Linked DNA regions of Homo sapiens: region 1 is linked to region 2. The links come from fine-mapping of genetic effects on gene expression. Tissue or cell type: tibial nerve. Region 2 holds a variant in brackets; the other region holds the start of a gene. All regions are shown on one strand. Distances are from middle to middle.

The links. PIP is the estimated chance that this variant, and not a neighbour inherited with it, causes the effect.
Region 1: it holds the start of CRYZL2P-SEC16B, and the variant in region 2 is fine-mapped to the expression of CRYZL2P-SEC16B in tibial nerve (GTEx, PIP above 0.99). The same link has a PIP of 0.9 or more in adrenal gland, aorta, atrial appendage, cerebral cortex, coronary artery and esophagus muscle.

The regions. Positions count from the first base shown.
Region 1 is chr1:178,031,971-178,042,411 of GRCh38, forward strand. CRYZL2P-SEC16B (CRYZL2P-SEC16B readthrough) reads right to left here and starts at 6,006. Exons shown (of 32, transcript NM_001356506.2): 1 at 5,927-6,006; 2 at 5,724-5,831; 3 at 2,735-2,831; 4 at 1,057-1,115; 5 at 460-525. It also overlaps the pseudogene CRYZL2P.
Region 2 is chr1:177,956,207-177,966,647 of GRCh38, forward strand. CRYZL2P-SEC16B (CRYZL2P-SEC16B readthrough) reads right to left here. Exons shown (of 32, transcript NM_001356506.2): 9 at 9,687-9,799; 10 at 8,841-8,961; 11 at 7,965-8,073; 12 at 5,384-5,528; 13 at 4,585-4,733; 14 at 4,136-4,197; 15 at 2,634-2,769; 16 at 1,926-2,156. It overlaps SEC16B (SEC16 homolog B, endoplasmic reticulum export factor), which reads right to left. Exons shown (of 26, transcript NM_033127.4): 3 at 9,687-9,799; 4 at 8,841-8,961; 5 at 7,965-8,073; 6 at 5,384-5,528; 7 at 4,585-4,733; 8 at 4,136-4,197; 9 at 2,634-2,769; 10 at 1,926-2,156. Among named protein-coding and RNA genes, the nearest start is that of SEC16B, 8.6 kb to the right of the region's middle. RefSeq lists an enhancer at 3,587-4,088. The variant G/A (reference allele first, on the strand shown) is at 4,599.

The DNA.
Region 1 (10,441 bases), 76 kb after region 2:
GGGACAATTGTGTACTGTCCACCACCAGGGGGCACCATTCACACCCTGCACAACCATGCTAGACTACCCTGGCTGGCTCCATTCCCAGGGCTATCTCTTTCATAAGCTTTGTGTCTGGGAGAAGCCCATTACATCCAGCTCAATGCCCAAAACCAGCTTTTCTACTAAAACTACCTAGTCCAAATGAACAGCCAGCTCAAGGACTCAGAAAACAAAATGTTGTTCTTCATTAAAACACTCAATGCAAACAAAGCTCTGTGCAAAGTGTTGTCACATTAATGAAGAGAAGGAGTTTAACATTTGAAAAAATGAAGTGCTTAGCTGAGAAACAAGACATGACCAAATAAATACAAAGAAAAAGAGGGAGAGGGGAAGACAGGAATGAGGGATAGGTGGAAATTAAAGAAAAACAAAGGAGAAAAAACATCTTCAACCATTAATCTTGAGTGGTACAGATACCTTCTGGTCAGTGACGCATTCTTCAGCCATACAATTAAAGTTTCTTGTGCCAATAACTCTATCTCCCTAAAGGAAACATACCATTAAGGATATGTGCAAATGTATGACCTTGCATTCCTTTTCCTGAATTAATCAAAAAAGAAAAAAAAATGCACATCTCTGACTCCATAAGACACAGGTTGGTCTTAATTATTCAGAGTTACTGTTTAGTAAATAAAATAATAACTCTCTCAATACCACCACCAGGCTGTGAAGCCAATTTGAGTGAGCACATTTGAGACGAAGAGAGAGAGTAAGGGAAAGGTTGATTTGAATTAGAAGCCCACTCTTAATTTCACAAGAGAATCAAATTCTCTGTCCTCTTGGTTAAAGACTGAGGTGCCGCCTTTTATTCATAATGAAAAGTTTAATGAAGCCAGGAACTTCCAATTACTTCCTTTCCCCAGAAAGAATTTTGTTTCTTACCTTTCTAGTTAGGTTTCCCTTTGGTGTCTGCAGGCAAAAGCCAGTAGAAGCAAGACCCTTTGGCTACAAATGAAGTTAGCATATTTTTCATAGCTACATATACATTGATTCCCTAGACTTCAATTAATTTACCTCTTTAACTGTCCTGACATCTGTGCCTGTCTCCAATACTGTCCCAGAAAAGTCCATTCCTAAAAACATATTGTTTAAAGATTAGGTTATCTGTAAAACACAACACCATGGAGATGAGAAAACACTGATCGACAGGCTATTCCAACAGCTTTCGGAGCTGAGGATTTAGGTGCCCCTCCTCCTCTCCATATGCAGGTAGAGAGGTAAGGTGTTATACTCAAAGCACAGGAAAGTAAACATAAGATTTCACCATCACAACCTGGGAAGCTATAGCAGTCTCAATCTTACCATGACACAAATGAAAATTTCAAGAATGTGCAAAAGCACAGAGAATCACAGGTACACAGGTACTTTTGACCCTAATCACTGGGACCTCCTATAGCACCCCAGTGACAATGTTCATCCTATTTATTTATCTGTTTTCAAGTCTCTTCTGCTGGCCTGTAGGGCCCTCAAGGACATGAACTGTGTTTATTCAGACAGTACTTGGCTCAACTGGATGAACTGGTGCTGTCTGCCCTTTCCTTTTTCACCTCTGAAATTTCTGAATTAATGATGATGTTTCCTACTTGAGCTGCCAGGGGAATAACTCAATTGTGTATGACATCTTCCCCCCAACCAGTATTTCAGCAAATATAAACAGAAGGAAATGGTTCTAACTGTCGAGATACAATCAAACACCCTGAAAACAAAACACGGTAACTATTTGCAATCACTCTATCTTTCATGATATATATCTGTATAAAATGTACATGTACTATATACATGCTAAGCTATACTTACATCCCTTTAAATAAATTTCAACAACAAAAATCAGTCACTTGTCCACATGTGCAGGATCTAGGGGTAGACTGGGAACAAAAATCAGGCAGAGGGCTGCTAAGAAATCCACACTCTTCTTCTCTCTGATCCTTTGGCATTAGGTTTTGTTTGTTTGTTTGTTTGTTTTGTTTTTGAGACGGAGTCTCACTCTGTTGCCCAGGCTGGAGTGCAGTGGCATGATCTTGGCTCACTGCAACCTCCGCCTTCTAGGTTCAAGCAATTTTCCTGCCTCAGCCTCCCGAGTAGCTGGGACTACAGGCGCACACCGCCACGTCCGGCTAATTTTTGTATTTTGGTAGAGACAGGGTTTCACCATTGTTGCCCAGGCTGGTCTTGAACTCCTAGGCTCAGGCAATCCGCCCGCCTCAGCCTCACAAAGTGCTAGGATTACAGGCGTGAGCCACCATGCCCGGCCTGGCATTAGGTTTTATTGGGAATGTGTCTGTGAGGCTGAAAGTTTTAGCTGCAAACAGATGTCTGTGATCCTTCAGTGAAGAAACAAAACTGGGGCAATATCCAGCAAGGAAAGGGAATGAATGGCTAGGACCAATGATAATTCTGGTGAAAATTCATTTGTTCATTTCTTCATTTTTAGAGTATTTATTGAGCACCTACTAAGAGCCACGTACAATGCTAAGCTGGGGGATATAATGTTGATCAAGACAGGCATAGACTTTGCCCTCATGGGGCTCACAATCCAGTGATCCCAATACACAGTGAGATGGACACATATAACTGAAACATCACCGATGGCAGGCAGACACCAACAGAGCACTGCCTGAGCCCAGGGGCATGATTCTGAAAACTCCCTGTATCTTTTTTTCCTGAAGCAGTCACTTGGTCTCCCTATACTCACCAGGTGTGAAGGGAAGATGGGGCCTTTCCTGATATTGATCACGGCAGATCAAAATATCACCAAAGTTAACTCCACAGAAATGGACATCAACTCTGACCTACAAAAGAAATAGAGCAGCAAAGCAGAACAGTACACATCCACGGAGACAATGTTTATTCAATCATACCAAAATAGTTACTGAATGACAACAACATGCCAGGTACTAAAGTAACAGCTGGCACACACTCATGGGCAAGGCCTCTGCCTTCATGAAGCTAAAGTATAGGAGGGAAAACAGATATTAACCAGATAATAATGAAGATACATATATTAAGTTATAACTCCAGTACCAAGCATTAATGATAAAAAATATATGGTGCTATGAAAGCACATAATGGAAGGATTTGACCACTTAGGGAAGTCAGGAAAAGCATTCCTAAGTAAGCAACACTTTGAACTAACAACTGAGAGTTAACTATTCAAAATAGGAGGCAAAAGCCTTGGCACAGACAAAAGCAATGGCGTGTACAAAGACACTACAGTGGGGACACAAGAGAGTTTGAAGCCTTACTGAGGATTTTTTTTTTTTTAAGACGGACTCTCACACTGTTGCCCAGGGTGGAGTGCAGTGGCATGATCTCAGCTCACTGCAACCTCTGCCTCCCCGGTTCAAGCAATTCTCCTGCCTCAGCCTCCCAAATAGCTGGGATTACAGGCATGCACCACCACACCCAGCTAATTTTTTTTGTATTTTTAGTAGAGACAGGGTTTCACCATATTAGCCAGGCTGGTCTTGAACTCCTGACCTCGTGATCCGCCTGCCTCAGCCTCCCAAAGTGCTGGGATTACAGGCGTGAGCCACTGCATCCGGCCTCCTTACTGAAGATCTTAATTTTCATACTAGGAACAATGGGAAGTCATTAATGAGTTTTAAACAGAAGGGTAAAATGATCAGCTCTTTGGGGAATCTGGAATCCTTTACCCTAGTCCCAGATCCCCAGCCTCTATGTTTTGTGATAGTGCCATAGCTGAGGCAGACCTACAGCAGTGTAGCCAGTAGTTTCTCTAGGCCTTGTAAGCCCACGGTTCTCAAAATGTGGCCCCAGACCACCAGCATCAGTATCACCTGGCACAGGCCAGGCACAATGGCTCATGCCTGTAATCCCAGCACTTCAGGAGGCCAAAGCAGGAGAATCACTTGAGCCCAGGAGTTCGAGACTAGCCTGGGCAACCATCTCTACAAAAATAAAAATTAAAAAATTAGCCAGGAATGGTGGCATGTGCCTGTGGTCTCAGCTACTTGGGAGACTGGGGTGGGAGAACTGCTTGAGCCTGGGAGGTCAAGGTTGCAGTGAGCCATGATCATGCCACTGCACTCCAGCCTGAGTGACAGAGTGAGACCCTATCTCAAAAAAAAAAAAAAAAAAGAAAAGAAATTCAAATTATCAAGCCCCATCCCAGACCTACTGAATCAGAAGCTCTGAAGACAAAGCCTAGCGTTCTGTTTTAACAAGCCTCAAGACCAGGGGTTCCCAACCCCGGGGCCACAGACCGGTATGCTGTCAGGAATCCAGCTGCACAGCAAGAGGTGAGCAGACAAAGCAAGCATACCGCCCAGCTCTGCCTCCCGTCAGATCAGTGGCGGCATCAGATTCTCACAGAAGTGCGAACCGTATTGTGAACTACACAGGCAAGGGATCCAGGTTGCGCACTCCTTATGAGAATCTAATGCCTGAGGATCTGCGGTGGAACAGTTTCATTCCAAAACCATCCCCTCCAACCCCCATCAGTCCATGGAAAAACTGTCTTCCACAGAACTGGTGCCAAAAAGGTTGCGGACCGCTGTGCTAGACAACCACTGTCATAAACCAACACATCCCAACAGGGGTTGGAATTACTGGAAGAAATGAAAGCTGAGACACCAAAGGGATGATATTGATTTGTTTGTACAGAGGTGGCCATATTGGTGAGAAGAAATTTTTATCTACAAAATTCATTCATTCAACAATTTTTTAAGCCTCTGCCACATGCCAGGAACCATTTTAGACTTAAGGGATTTAGTAGTGAGTAAAACAAACATAGTCACAGCTCTCATGGGCTAATTCCTTACAATGCAATGTCTAGGACAAATAACAGAACAAAGGAGCCTAGCCCTCAGCCTGGACACATTCCATGCAGGACACATCAGTTATTGACAGGCATGCACAGGGCACACATGTGTTCTCCAGCCACTCCACCTAGATTTAAGGATGATTTGAGGATGAATGTCGTTCAGCATGTGAATCCCAGGAAGTAGATTGGCTGCCATCATGTGCTCATTCAAATAATCCGTGTTAGCCATGTTAGTTAACAGGCTCCATGCTGGTAACACTTCAGGGCTATGGCTGCCTTTCTCCCTCTCCCTGAAGGTCTCCAACACTGAGGCCCACTATCTGCTTCACGCTGTCTGAGGTTCTCATCTCCACACCAGATGACACTGTGTTACTAGAGTGGTCAATAGGCAAGGCCAAAATGATGTCCACATTTCAGTGGACCAGCTGCCCACATCCCTAAACGAACCCCATCCCAAATGTCTGCAATATACCAGAGGCGTATGTTCACATGGAAACACGGAGGTTACCGGGCTGGTTTCAGGGAGGCAGAGGCCGAATAATTCGATTCCGGCACTGAGGTGGAAGGAAGCAAAGGATGAGGTCCATGTACCTGTGTTAAACCAATAACTTGCACATACAAAGTCGTGTGCAAATCAGAATTCTCTGTTTCTAAGGCAACAGCTCTGAGCATTGAGAAAGAGGCCTATAGGCGTGTTTTGGGGGAACAATCTTCCTTTAGCACTTTAGACCTTGGAAAGGGCTTCAGCCCCCTAGCTATCCCAGGACGAAGTTGCCCTCCACTCTCTCGGTCGCCCCCTCGCTTCAGAACTGGGAACTTGATTCAAGAAGGAAGCCTGCGGGGAGTGTGTGGTGGCGGGGAGAAGGGGAGGGTAGAAGGGGATAAGCCAGCCCCCTACCTCGTGAGGCCCGACGGGGCGGGGGCCACCTCTTCAATGGTCAGGGGCTTCTTCAGCTCTGCGCAAATCGCAGCGCGGTAGTGCCGGCCGCTGCCCTGTCCGGCTCTCCTGCAACACAAAACAAGGGAAGGGTCAGTCGGGCAGCCCCGCCGGGAGCACCCTGGGACTGCCTTGCGGGGCTCAGGGAGGAGTCGGGGTTGCACCTGCAGACCCACGCCCGAGGGAGGCACTGCCTGCAGAGCACGGCCGCCAAGGCCAAGCCCAGCGAGGGGCGAGGGGGAGTGGCCAGAGCGCGGCAGGAAGAGCCGGACAGCGCCGCCCAGCCCCGGGAGAGCGGAAGGGCGGCCCGCGAGGCCTCCTGGCGACGCGCCCTGGCAGCCACGACCCAACCCCGGCGGGGCAGCTCCGGTCCAGTGCGCCCGGCTTCTACGGCCGCCGAGACCAAACGACCGCGCGAGCTCCCTGTTGGGCCTCTCTGGAGGTGGAGCCGGCTGGAAGAAAAAAAGAATAAAGGAAAACACCAGGAAACGGAATTCGATTACCCGAGATTAACCTTCTTTGGCATTTTTATAACAAATTTGGGAGACTTTTTTTTTTTGTAGTTTCAACTTTTATTTTAGATTCAGGGGCTACATGTGCAGATGTGACCTGGGTATATTGTGTGATGCTAAGGTTCAGGGTACGAATCATCTCGTCACTTCGGTGCTGAACATAGTACCTAATAGTTTTTCAACCCTTGCCCCCCTCAAAATTGGGAAACTTTTTAAACCACACTTGGCGACATTTAAATAGTGGTTCTTGGCTGGGTGGTTAACGCCTGTAATCCCAGCACTTTTGGAGGCCAAGGCGGGTGGTGGCCAGTGTCTGTGGTCTCAGCTACTCAGGAGGCTGAGGCGGGAGGGTCGCTTGAGTGCAGGAGTTGGAGGCTGCGGTGAACTATGATCGCACCACCCTGAGTGACAGAGTGAGACCTTCTCTATCGATTAGATAGATAGACAGACAGACAGATGATACATAGATAAAGGTTATTGGGTCCTCTGCCAGTGCAAAAAATCCTAAATGCACAGGTAAAGGCTTTATTTATGTATTTATTTTTGAGACAGTGTCCTTCTCTGTCACCCAGGCTGGAGTGTAGTGGCACTATTTCGGCTCACTGCAACCTCCGCCACTTAGGGTCAAACCATCCTCCCGCCTCAGCCTCCCATGTAGCTGGTACTATAGTTGTGCGCCACCATATCTGGCTAATTTTTGTATTTTTTTAAAGACGGGTTTCATCATTTTGCCCAGGCTGGTCTCGAACTCCTGGCCTCAAGCGCCCTGCCCGCCTCAGCCTTCCAAAGTGCTAGGATTACAAGTGTGAGCCACCACACCTGCCTAGGTGAAGGCTTTAAAGTCAGCATTTGAACACCTTGTTAGAGTTCAATTCTTGTTACTAATTTTCTCACATTTGCAGGACCATTTACACTAAATCCAAAGAGTTACTAATGATCCAATGTTGAATGAGCCTACACAAATCCAAATAATACTTCCAGTTAAAATCAGACCAAAACCCACCACGGGGAGAGTGGAAGAGCATTGGTTCTCATGTCCCCAATGCCAGTATTATGCTTGGCACATAGTAGATGCTCAATAAATGATTGTTGACTCGAAGACCAACACAGACCATTCACACTAGGCGAATAAGCACACTCTGGAAGAATTGAAAATATACAATATAATCTGTGAAATATTATAAAATTGGGTAGATCTCTATTGCAACAGTAACCAAATATTTATAGGCTAGCTATATAAGAGAAGCACACATTATGTTGGAGAGAATATTTCGTTTGACAGGTAACTTTTAAAGACAGCCTGATGTCTTTAAAAGACATCTGGCAGAAGAGTAGTCTCAGGTTCAAGCCCAGCTCTCCCACTTATTTGCGGGTTTAACATTGACATTTCTTGGCTCTCTGTCTCAGTGAACTCCTCTGTAAAATGAACACATCGGGCAGAATAATCCCTAAGTTCTAAATTCCTTCTATTTTTTGACAGAAACAGAATTCCCAGATAGAGCATGACCTGGAAGGCATGATCAGGAATGGAATAAAGGGAAAATGGAGAGCAAAAATGAAGTAGGAATGAACTTCTGAGATTATAGCCTAAAGGCTCTGGGGAAAAGGAGTACAAGAGCAAGGTCCTCACCTTGGATATACAACAGAGCTTACTGTTATTTTAATAGCACTCACAAGGAATTTGAGAAGTCATTTTAGTCCTCTCCCCCTTCCCACAAGAGGAAGACTAGAACAATGACTAGAAGCTGAGAAGTTGAAAAAACTTGTGTTTCCAATGAGACAATAAAGCACTTTGTGAACTGTTAATCATTAGACATATAAAATCAAACCAGGAATAATGGAGAAATACTAATGTTATCATCAAAGTGAACATTCTGGTTGCCAAATAACAGTGAGCAACTGGGTGCAGTGGCTCACACCTGTAATCTCAGCACTTTGAGAGGCCGAGGGAGGTGGATCGCTTGAGGCCAGGAGCTCACAGCCTGGGCAAGATAATTGTCAGGCCTCTGAGCCCAAGCTAAGCCATCATATCCCCTGTGACCTGCACATATACATTCAGATGGCCTGAAGCAACTGAAGATTCACAAAAGAAGTGAAAATAGCCTTAACTGATGACATTCCACCATTGTGATTTGTTTCTGCCCCACCCTAACTGATCAATGTACTTTGTGATCTCCCCCACCCTTAAGAAGGTTCTTTGTAATTCTCCCCACCCTTGAGAATGTACTTTGTGAGATCCACCCCCTGCCCGCAAAACATTGCTCCTAACTCCACCGCCTACCCCAAAACCTATAAGAACTAATGATAATCCCACCACCCTTTGCTGACTCTCTTTTCGGACTTAGCCCGCCTGCACCCAGGTGAAATAAACAGCCTTGTTGCTCACACAAAGCCTATTTGGTGGTCTCCTCACATGGACGTGCATGACATTGGGTGCTGAAACCCGGGACAGGAGGACTCCTTCGGGAGACCAGTCCCCTTCCCCTGTCCTCGCCCTCACTCCTTGAGGAGATCCACCTGCAACCTCGGGTCCTCAGACCAACCAGCCCAAGGAACATCTCATGAATTTCAAATTGGGTAAGCGGTCTTTTCACTCTCTTCTCCAGCCTCTCTTGCTACCCTTCAATCTCCCTCTCTCGCTACCCTTCAATCTCCCAGTCCTTCCAACTCCAGTTCTTTTTCCTCTCTAGTAGAGACAAAGGAAACACATTTTATCTGTAGACTCCAGCGCCAGTCACGGACTTGGGAAGACAGTCTTCCCTTGGTGTTTAATCACTGCGGGGACGCCTGCCTGATTATTCACTCACACTCCATTGGTGTCTGATCACCGCGGGGACGCCTGCCTTGGTCATTCACCCACATTCCTTTGGTGGCAAGTCAATTGCGGGGACACCTGCTTTGGCTGCTCACCTACTCCCTTCTCCATGTCTCTACCTTTCTCTTTAAACTTACCTCCATTACTATGGGCAACCTTCCACCCTCCATTCCCCCATCTTCTCCCTTAGCCTGTGTTCTCAAAAACTTAAAACCTCTTCAACTCTCGCCTGACCTAAAACCTAAGCGTCTTATTTTCTTCTGCAACACCGCTTGGCCCCAATACAAACTCAATAATGGTTCTAAATAGCTAGAAAATGACACTTTTGATTTCTCCATTTTACAAGACCTGGATGATTTTTGTTGAAAAATGGGCAAATGGGTCTGATGTGCCTGACATCCAGGCATTGTTTCATACACTGGTCCCTCCTTAGTCTCTGCTCCCAATGCGACTCATCCCAAATCTTTCTTCTTTCTCTGCGGTCTGTTCCTTCAGTCTCCACCCCAAGCTCTGAGTCCTTTGAATGCTCCTTTTCTACAGACCCATCTAACCTCTCCCCTCCTACCCAGGCTGCTCCTCACCAGGCTGAGCCAGGTCCCAATTCTTCCTCAGCCTCCGCTCCCCGATCCTATAATCCTTTTATCACCTCCCCTCCTCACACCCGGTCCAGTTTACAGTTACATTCCTCCACTAGCCCTCCCCCACCTGCCCAACAATTTCCTCTTAAAGAGGTGGCTGGAGCTGAAGGCATAGCCAAGGTAAATGCTCCTTTTTCCGACCTCTCCCAAATCAGGGTTTAGGCTCTTTTTCATCAAATATAAAAACTCAACCCAGTTCATGGCCCGTTTGGCAACAACCCTTAGACGGTTTACTGCCCTAGACCCAGAAGGGCCAGAAGGCCGTCTTATTCTCAATATGCATTTTATTACCCAATCCACTGGCGACATTAGAAAAAGCTCCAAAAATTAGATTCTGGCCCTCAAACCCCACAACGGGACCTAATTAACCTCACCTTCAAGGTGTACAATAATAGAGTAGAGGCAGCCAAGTAGCAACGTATTTCTGAGTTGCAATTCTTTGCCTCCACCGTGAGACAAACCCCAGCCACATCTCCAGCACACAAGAACTCCAAATGCCTAAACTGCGGCGGCCAGGCATTCCTCCAGGACTGCCTGCCCCAGGATCTTGCTTCAAGTGCCAGAAATCTGGCCACCGGGCCAAGGAATGCCTGCAGCCTGGGATTCCTCCTATGCCATGTCCCATCTGTGCGGGACCCCACTGGAAATTGGACTGTCCAACTTACCCGGCAGCCACTCCCAGAGCCCCTGGAACTCTGGCCCAAGGCTCTCTGA
Region 2 (10,441 bases):
GGCCACCTCCATTCATTTACATATTTTCTGTGGCTGCTTTCACACTATAAGGGCAGACCTGAGTAGTTGTAATAGAGACCCCATGGCTTGCAAAATGTAAAATGTTTACATTTTACATTTTTTACATCTGTCCAATTATAGAAAAAGTTCGGCAACTCTAATATAGAGTGTTTTCTGAGGTATTTTGTAAAATCAAAAAGGGAAGGTACAGAAATGGTATACAGCATGCTATTTTTTAGAAAAGAGAAAATAACAATATATGCATAAAATTTCTCTGGATATTTCTGAGAGGAAAACTGGGTGACTAGGGGGTGGGAGCATCATTTCCCAAGTATATCTTTTTTATATTTTAATTTTTGAATTAAATTGATTCAAATTGATTTTAATTATCTATCCAAATACTTAAATTTTTATGAATTTTGTAAAGCATAATCTCAACTTCAAAATTAAGCTAGAAATCAATCTTCATCTGTTTAAAGTACAGACAGTCCCTGCTTTATGAGTTTTTGACTTTACAATGCTGTGAAATCAATACACATTCGGTAGAAACTGTAATTCAAGTGCCCATACAACCATTCTGTTTTTCACTTTCAGTAGCATATTCAATAAATTATATGAGATATTTAGCACCTTATTATAAAACAGACTCTGGCTTAGATGATTTTGTGGGTTATGGTAAACATTCTGAGCACATTTGAGGTAGGCTAGGCTAAGTTATGATGTCGGGTTAGGTGTATCAAATGCATTTTTAACTTATGATATTTTCTATTTAATGATGGGTTTATTGGGATGTAAACATTGTAAGTCATGGAGCATCTATATTCAATATTGATAGGAAGCCTTAGATATAGCAGCAGGAGTATTTGTAAACAAACTTCCTGGAAATTAATTTGGTGTATATATAAAGAACCTTTTAAAAGTGCATGCCCTTTATATACCCAATAATTCCACTTCTAGGAATCTGCCCTAAAAAATTTAAAAGATCAGGCAAAGACTTATGTAACAAGATGTGTAAATGGTATAATTTATAGTGGTTGACAAAATTATAAATAGTCTAAATATTCAATAATAGTAGAATAGATAAATAAAATATGATACATTAATATGATGGAATATTGTATAACTATTTTTTAAATGGCGCTATTGGGGTATATATAATGCCATGAGGGTATTTTACCATATCATCTTAAGTTTAAAAAGAGAAATAAACAACTGTATATGCAATTTTATTTTCTTTTTAATATATATGCATGGGAAAATGCTGGAAGTAAATGTATCAAAATGTTAACAGGTATTATCTTTTTTATTTTTAATTTGTATGAGTACATAGTAGGTATATATATTTATGGAGTAAAAAATATGAGATATTTTGGTACAGGCATGCAATGTATAATAATCACATCCTGATAAATGGGGCATCCATCCCCTCAAGCCTTTATCCTTTGTGTTACAAACAACCCAATTATACTCTTTTAGTTATCTTTAAATGTACAATTAAGCTATTATGGACTATAGTTCCCCTTTTGTGCTATCAAATACTAAGTCTTATTCATTCTAACTTTTTTTTGCACCCATTAACCCACCCACCCTCCCTCCCACCCTCCCCTACTGCCCTTCCCAGCCTCTGATAACCATCCTTCTACTGTCTATCTCCATGAGTTCAATTGTTTTGATTTTTAGATCCCACAAATAAGTGAGAACATGTGATGTTTGTTTTTCTGTACCTGGCTTATTTCATTTAATAGTTCATTGTCTTTTAGTGGTAGAACTATGGGTGTTTTCATTTTCTTTGTTCTGTCTTTCCGAACTTCTTGCATCCTCCCTGAAATGAGTATATACTATTCACATAATTTGAGCAGCGGTGAGTGGTGGAGAGGGATGGTGATTGCTTTTTCAAAATAAGTATGGGGGAAGGGCATACTTGCCTTCTTCCTTCCATAGTAGAGCAGCCTAGTGAATTTCTCCACGATCTGCGCAGGTGTCTCCACACTGGGGGGGATCTCTCCCGTGAGCAGGTTCGGGGTCCCAGAGCTCAGCACTGGCCAGTCCTCATCGGTCAGGTTGATGAGGTTGGCCACAGGGGGCTGCCGCTTGTACTTCTCCAGCTTCTTGCAGTCTTGCATTAGCAGCTCAGCGATGTCAGACCCCACCATGGACTGTAAGGCAAAGAGGATCATCTGGGGAGAATCCTATGAGTCCTCAGGCTGGCAGCCCCAGCTGGAGAAGGAAGGCACCAGGGAGCCTGCCTTCTTCACATGGAAGCCAATTATGCAAACATAAGGCAGTCCTTTGTTAGATTGCTATATTTCAGACTTCAGCATCACTATCATGGTTATTTTCTGCCTGTCAGGAGCCATAAAGCTTACCAGAAACATTCACAATTTCACAGGTATATTATCTGGCTGGTGCAATAACCCAGAAACTGTACAATTTTCCCAGACCAAGGAAGAAGATCATCAGGGAAGATCTGCGTTAGCAAACTCGCATTGACATTTGAGCAATTTTTTCCCTTGGGGCAATTTGTGGCTTCTTTAATATTGCTTTTCATAATCATGTCATAAACATAATCTTATCTATCCCATGAAGACTTAAATTTCAGCCTGCACCTGCTCTCCCACCAGAACAGAACTTACCCCATTCTGGCGACAAAGGAGAACCAAGAGCTGCCACAGTAGAGCTGAGTCTCTGCTCCCCAGTGTCTCAGATTTGCAGCTCTGAGCTGCTTTCTGCTGGCAAAACGTCATAATATCCACCTTATGTACATCTTCCCTACATGGAAAAAATTTAGGGAGCAAAGAGTGAGCAGGCAGACACTTCCCTGTTTCGGACCCCAGGCTCCTCCTAAGTGTGCAAGTGCTGGCTGGGCTGTGATTGAGATAGAAATCTGACAAGCCAGGGCTAAGGTAATGAGTCTATAGCTATAGGATAGTTATTTTCTTATAGAACAAGAAGAAATTTCAGAGATTCTCTCATGCACCCCCTTTATAGATGAAGAAACAGAGGCTCAGAGACCTGAAGTCACTGCACAGGAAAGCAAGTAAAAGCAGACTTTGGAGTCAGACAACCCTGGATCTAAATCTGGCTCTGCCACTTCTCTGTTTAGACAAGTTTCTTACCTCCTCTGAGCCTCAGCTTTGTCCCCTAAAATAGGGACAGTAAAAGGACCTACCTCCATACAAAAAGGAATTAGAAAATTGTGTGGCATATATTAAGTGATCAATATGATTGGCATTATGATTTGCTCAAGATTATCCAATAACATCAAAGCCAAGTTAGGCTTAGTACCCCAGTGTTTGAATACCCAACTCGCTTTTTTGCCCCATATCTGTATACCTGTTTGTAAGAAAGAGATAACACTCATTTTTACTTGAGGGAACCGTCAAATGCCATTTGAGGAATACATTTATATAGTAGTGATGATACTTTCCATGTGCATAATCTGACTTGAGACTCATAGACAAGCCTCGGGTAGGGAGAGCAGGTGTTATACCATTTCTCAAGGGGAAAACTAAGGTTCAGAGAGGGCTAACTGACCTGTCCACCATGGTATTCCTAGTCAGTAAGACGCCTGAGCCTGAGACCCACGTGGGCTGTCATCCAGCAAGGACTCTCTCCTCAACAAAGATGCCCTGAGTTACATTTATCAGAAATATAACTAGACATTTAAAAGCAGTCCTAGTTCAGTACTGCAGAGGGCTCACTTGCACACTGTTCTGTAACTTGAACACTGCCGATCTTATTTACCTCTCCAGGAAAAAGCCACTGTTACAAGAATTGTTTCTGCTATGATCCACTTGTCAGTGACTTCCCAGGCGATGCTCCACTTTTCTACTAACATCTATCAAGCACACGGAATGCTAAAACTTCCAACCATGCAGCCTCTGCATAATGGAACTGGTTTTAGATTTCTAAACTGTCATGCTAATTTTTCTTTCTGTCCTTCAACTATTGAATGGCTTGTCAAAATGACTCAGGCCACATCTGGTTCTATCTTGCAGCACAGAGAATTCCACTCCAACAAGGACAGATATTTTTTTCCAAGGAAACCAAGAACAAATCTCCAAAATGCTGATCTGGGCAGGAAGATTTTCTAGGTTTCAAAAGCCCTTACTCAGCAGCTCTTACAGCACTATACCTAATCAAGGGTCCTGAGAAACTTCTCATCTCCTCTTGCTCTTCGGAATCATTAAGAATAACCTGGAATAAAACAATCAGATTTTGTGTTTAAGACTGTGGCCACCCTAGGCCCCTTTCAGTCAAGTCTAGTGTCAGACCCCAAGGCCGTGGGGCTAGGATATGGCTCAAGGCCTTGTGGAGAAAGCAGAAAGAAAAAAGTGAATTTTGTTGCTAAAGATGAGACATTGACATCTCAGGAAAAACACAACTGTAGCATCAATTCTTTCAGAGAAGAGCCCCACCCATTCCTGCACCCTCCTAATCCAGGGGGTACATGGCCCAGTTTCCCGCAAGAGCATCCCATTCCTGGAGATGCCCCGGCTCAGGCACAGGAAAGCAAGGTAAGCATGTTAGGAGTAGTTGGGTAAGCAGTGTGCCAGCATTCCAGGGACACTGGGTCTTCTTTACCTCCATGCTGTGCA[G/A]TTCAACAAGGGCTGCTTGCCCGTCAGTGGGAGAGCTGGGACCTACATGCACCAGCTGACCTCCTGGCCCGAAACTCACAGGAACATGAGGGATGTAGAACTTCATGGGTGCTTTGGGACCAGCTGAGGAGACATCTTCTGACCAACAGACACAGATGGACATTGTTAGCGTTACTTCCATCACTTTTCTTTAGTTTAGGAATATGCCACAGATGTATTTCTGCCCAAATTCTGCCTGAACCAAAATAAGATTCTGGGTGGGTTGTGTAATTAGAAGAAGCCCATGTTCCCTGCTCCAGTCAGATTTAAGCCTCTGAGAAGGTGTCAGAATACAATGCGTGGGCTTGATGATTCAGTCCAAATGATAATGCTCTCAGCCCAGACTCTCAGTGATGCTGAGAGGCCAAGGAGTCTCTGGCTTTCATGGCCTCTATACTCATGACAAAGTTCCTACATCCAGACAAAGCAATGAAGCTTTGCATCTTGCTTTTGCTTTTCCTAATTCTCTCTGGTCTTCCCTTTCTTAAAAGCACCACTGAGTGCCTCCTTTCCCAACTTGATAATGGATAGGGGCAGTGTTCCCTTCCAGGAATCAGCTATGATGCAATTACTATTACAAGCAAAAAGAGAGAAAATGGAACCAAAGTTGACCTCTCTGCCCAGGTGACCTACATAAGCAAATGAGGTGGACAATGATCCATCGTAAGGCTGACTTTCCCAGAGACTTGCCACCCAGCCCTTCCACATCAGATTCAATCAACTCTTCTGATCATTTTAGAACCCACCAGCCTGAACTGGACTCCAAGCTGCTGAAGCTGGGGGATCATCCCGCTCCGGGGCATCTCTGATGTACTGACTGAGCTCATAGCTGCTGGAGCTGAGACCAGACTCACGCTGCTGGAGAAGGTTGGACTCACTAGCCAATGATGGCTGAAAGTTAAAAACAAAAACACACAGGAAGAAGTTTCAGAGAGCTGGTCTTCTCAAGCGTTCCTTCAAAGAAACAAAATACATACGGTGAAAGTGGATGTGTTGAAAGGATAAAAAGAGATAATCAAGTTGATAGGCATTTGCCAAAGGATATATTATGACCCAATGGAAAGAGTGCAGGCCTTGGGGTCAGGGGCCCTTGAATTGAAATCTCAGCTTTGCCTTATACTCAGCTGCTGTGCCCCTGGACACGTGACTTAGGCTCTCTGAGCTCAGTGCTTTCATCTGTGATATAATCATATCTGCCCTATATACTTCAAGCAATTCATGTATTCATTCATAAACAATTTTCTTTTTTGAGACAGAGTCTCACTCTGTCACCAGGCTGGAGTGCAGTGGCATGATCTCGGCTCACTGCAACCTCCACCTCCTGGGTTCAAGCGATTCTTCTGCCTCAGCCTCCCAAGTAGCTAGGACTACAGGCACGCCACCACGCCCAGCTGATTTTTGTATTTTTAGTAGAGATGGGGTTTCACCATGTTGGCCAGGATGGTCTCAATCTCTTGACATTATGATCTGCCCACCTCAGCCTCCCAAAGTGCTGGGATTACAGGCGTGAGCCACCATGCCTGGCCCTCCTTCATTGACTGTTTAATGAGCACCTATTATGCTCCAGGTACTGTGCTTTCCCCTTGGATGCAGGTGTAAAGAAATTCATGGGGCCAGGTATGATGGCTCTCACCTGTAATCCCAGCACTTTGGGAGGCCAAAGCAGGAGGATCACTTGAGCCCACGAATTTGAGACCCCAAATTGCAACATAGCAAGACCCCATCTCTACAAAAAAACAAAACATAAAAAAATTTAGCTGGGCATGGTGGTGCACAACTATAGCCCCAGCTACTTGGGAGGCTGAGGTGGAAGGATCACCTGAGCCCAGGAGTTCAAGGCTGCAGTGAGCTATGATCATGCTGTTACACTCCAGCCTGGGTGACAGAGCAACACTCTGTCTCTAAATAAATAAATAAAGAAATTCATTGAATTTACATCTTGTGTGCATACAAGTAAAATAATGGATTCAAAAGCTCTTTGGGCCAAGCGCAGTGGCTCACACCTGTAATCCCAGCACTTTGGGAGGCCGACGCAGGAGGATCACCTGAGGTAAGGATTTCCAGACCAGCCTGGCCAACATGGTGAAACCCCATCTCTACTAAAAAATACAAAAATTAGCTGGGCATGGTGGTGCACACCTGTAGTCCCAGCTACTAGGAAGGCCGAGGCAGGAGGATCACTTGAACCAGGGAGGCGGAGGTTGCAGTGAGCCGAGATTGTGCCACAGCACTCCAGCCTGGGCAACACAGTGAGACTCTGTCTCAAAAAAATAAAATAAAATAAAAAGTAAAGCTCTTTGTACAGTGTAAGGTGCTGTACATATGTATGTGGCTGCTGTCATTGTATTGTTACTATTAGTCATAATAATATGTGCCCTACTCTATTAAGCACTAAGTATACAAAAGAAATTGACCTCATACAAACCTAATAAGGGAGACAAGATTAATACAAGACTTTCAAAATTACAACCCCATCTCTGGCCGAGCGTGGTGGCTCAGGCCTGTAATCCCAGCACTTTGGGAGGCCGAGGTGGGTGGATCACAAGGTCAGGAGTTCAAAACCAGCCTGGCCAACATGGTGAAACCCGGTCTCTACTAAAAATACAAAAATTAGCTGGGCATGGTGGCAGGCACCTGTAATCCCAGCTACTCGGGAGGCTGAGGCAGGAGATTCGCTTGAACCCAGGAGGTGAAGGTGGCAGTAAGCCGAGATTGCACCACTGCACTTCAGCCTGGGCAACAGAGTGAGACTCTGTCTCAAAAGAAAAGAACCCATCTCTGTAGTATATTTGCAAATTTTCCACAAATCTAAAATTATCCTAAAATAAAAAGTTTATTTTAAAAAAGATTTCCATTTTGTGGCCCAGCTGGCGCATACAATAAGATTTTTAGAGGAAAGGGATGAATGAAGAGTTAGAAAAGGTTTCAAGCCCTGCTTCTCAAACCTGAATTCAAAGATTCTAGCAATTTCCCACTTCCTGGATTAAACCAAATTGCTAGTCCCCTGGGGTCCCTAACACCTAACACCTGATGACAGCGTCCTCTCTTTCCCAGTATGTTGGAGTGAGCTAGGTGACATTTCTTGATCCTGTCAATTTGATAAAAATGCAAAGGAGTTCAGTTCAGGGCCTCGGATGCCTAAGACTGAGGCAGTAAGGAGGGAAAAAAGGAAGGCATGGGCGGAGGTTCTGCCAAGAGGGGAGGAATGGGTCCTCCAGACGGCTGGCCACTGGACATCCATCCCCAAGGGCCCTGTTCTGCCACTGCTGACAGTGTCAGCTGCGACACATGGCCACAGTCTCCAGCCCCCACGTCACTTTAGGTTACCTTATTTTTCTGGGCCTCAGCAAGCAGGCTCCCTGGAAACAGCTCCCCCGGCCACTCCTGTCCAGAGTTGGAAGCAGGGCTGTCTTTACAAGGGTTCCTACTGTTAGATCTGCAGCAAAATGACAGGAGCAGTGAGCGGGGTCCTGGGCAAGCCAGCAAGGCTGAGGCACTCTCCGCCGGAAGCTGACCTGCTCCAAAGCGTGGGCAGGTACCATGTCAGCCTGGGTGCCATAGGAGAAAGCATTTTCCTCCTACTCACCACCTCAATCTACTAATCCCAGAAAAACAGGAGTGCTGGAGTTCCACAGCTCAGTGGCTGGAAGTGGCCTCAGGCCCTGATGAGAAGGGTTGGTCTCTACAGCCTGACATTCTGGAATGACTTACATCAGAGTGTTTAGGTTGGTGAATTCCACAGCTGCAAGCACCAGGACAGATGCTTGAGCAAAACTCTCTTCCCTGTCTTGTCTTACCACAGGGAGATGGCCCATTCTCAGGGCTCAGGCGTAGGCTGAGGAAAAGCACCACAGCACCAGGTAAGTTCTCATGACCTAATCGTGAGAACTTTTGCTAGGCCATATCTGTTCTAAGGCCAACACAGAATTAAAGTCCTCTTTTAGGACAGACCTCAAGGAACCTCACAGGACTCAGACTCGCCCAGCTTTGGGAACAGACTGTCAGTGATAAGAACCTCCCTTCCCAGGGTCCATATTAACAGCTGGCCAGGCCCATCCTGGGATATTCCCATATCCCTGTGGCTACAACAAAGGTACATGGGCTTCTGGAGGTGAGATGGCAGCATCAGACGCCAGAAGATTTGCCCGACATAGTCTGAGTTTGACAACATCATGTCAAACTGGCCTCTCCTTTCACACTTACTGGAAGTGGGTCTCACTATTTGTTCCAAATGGACTGTGCTGGTTTTCATAATGATGTTCATCAAGGTACTTTTGCTCTCGGTAATCTTCGTGCCAGATATAAGGACTCCGTTGCCTTGGCACTGCACCCTCAGAGAAAACAAAATCAAGACAGGTCACTTCCTGTTTCTGAAAGTTCTTAGAAAGATATTAGTGAGCTGTGAGGAGCTCCTGGAGCACAGTAGATCTAAAAACATATTTTCCAAATTGAAAAAATAGATAGGTGAGAGCTAATAAAGAAAGTCCATAGGACGCCTCTCAGTCCCCTCTGAACTAGTTAGCATGGATCTATACAACCGCACAACGATGGGGATTGGTGTGTGTGTGTGTGTTCAATGTTGAAACAGATTTATCTTTCCTAGCAGTTCAGATGCTGCCATTAAGACACACCCTATACCTATTAGCATACGGTAGAACACTCATTTGGGTGCATATCTGCTGTCCTCAGGGTGAAGTGATACACTCTTACTATAGCCCAGCAGATGTCCTTAAGAACTGACTTCACTGTTACTTGGTCAAAGACTATATAATCTGGGCTATAAGGCAAAGTAGGAGAAAAAACATGGATGAAGTACAAACTACCCATAGTGCTAGTAACAGTACCATCATCTATGCATACAAAGGAAAACAACTCCTTTATATCTCTTCTCAGGACATCTAGGAGGAGTGTTTCTGCTATGGTCTCGTCTGGCCAAGAAAGGATGCCCAAGGTGAGGGTCTGAACATGGCTCCTTTGGTCTCTCCCCTGCCTCTCAGACCAGCTGCCCCATCCCCAAATCCCAGAGGCTTCTTGGAGACTTTTCCATACCTCTTTCTTCCTGCAGCCACTGTGGGTGTCCATGATAGTAATAACTTCCATAAGCATATTCCTCCCTCATTGTGGGAGACTGATAGCTCTGATATGAATTCTCATAACCTGGCCTAAAATATCACAAAGAAGACTGGTCAGTTGAGGACAAGGGTAGTAAAGAGAGAAACCAATGAAGAACTTGACAAACTAAACAGGTTCAGAGGACAGAGTTGTGACCCCAGCCTAGAATCTGCTTGAAAGCCACAGTTAATTCTAGATCCTGTAAACAGAATCAAAGCAGGAGTCAGGCCTTTGTTGCACAACAGGAGTAGAATTTTTATAGTACAATTTTTTTTACTTAAAACTCTTTTTCTAAAAACCTCTTTTTTATTTAAAACTCTTTTATTTTGTAGTAAAACTCTCACTCCCCAAACACATACATATTATCTTAGAAAACTCCATCCTGATATTATCTGAGAAAACCACTTCCTGAGATGACTGTGTTAAGTCTCCAATACACCACCGTAATTTCCATGCTTATCCCAGATGGAGTTGAGATTTAAAAGTCAAACTGGACTATGTTAAGTCTGATTACTTTTATTGCCTCTGTCCTGAACACGCCTCTCTTTGAGAATTCAACAATCCAAAAAGACTGGGGAGAGGAACATCATAATATTAATGTTTTTATCAATTAATAATTTTTTTTTTTGAGACAGAGCCTCACTCTGTCACCCAGGCTGGAGTGCAGTGGCGTGATCTTGGCTCACTGCAAC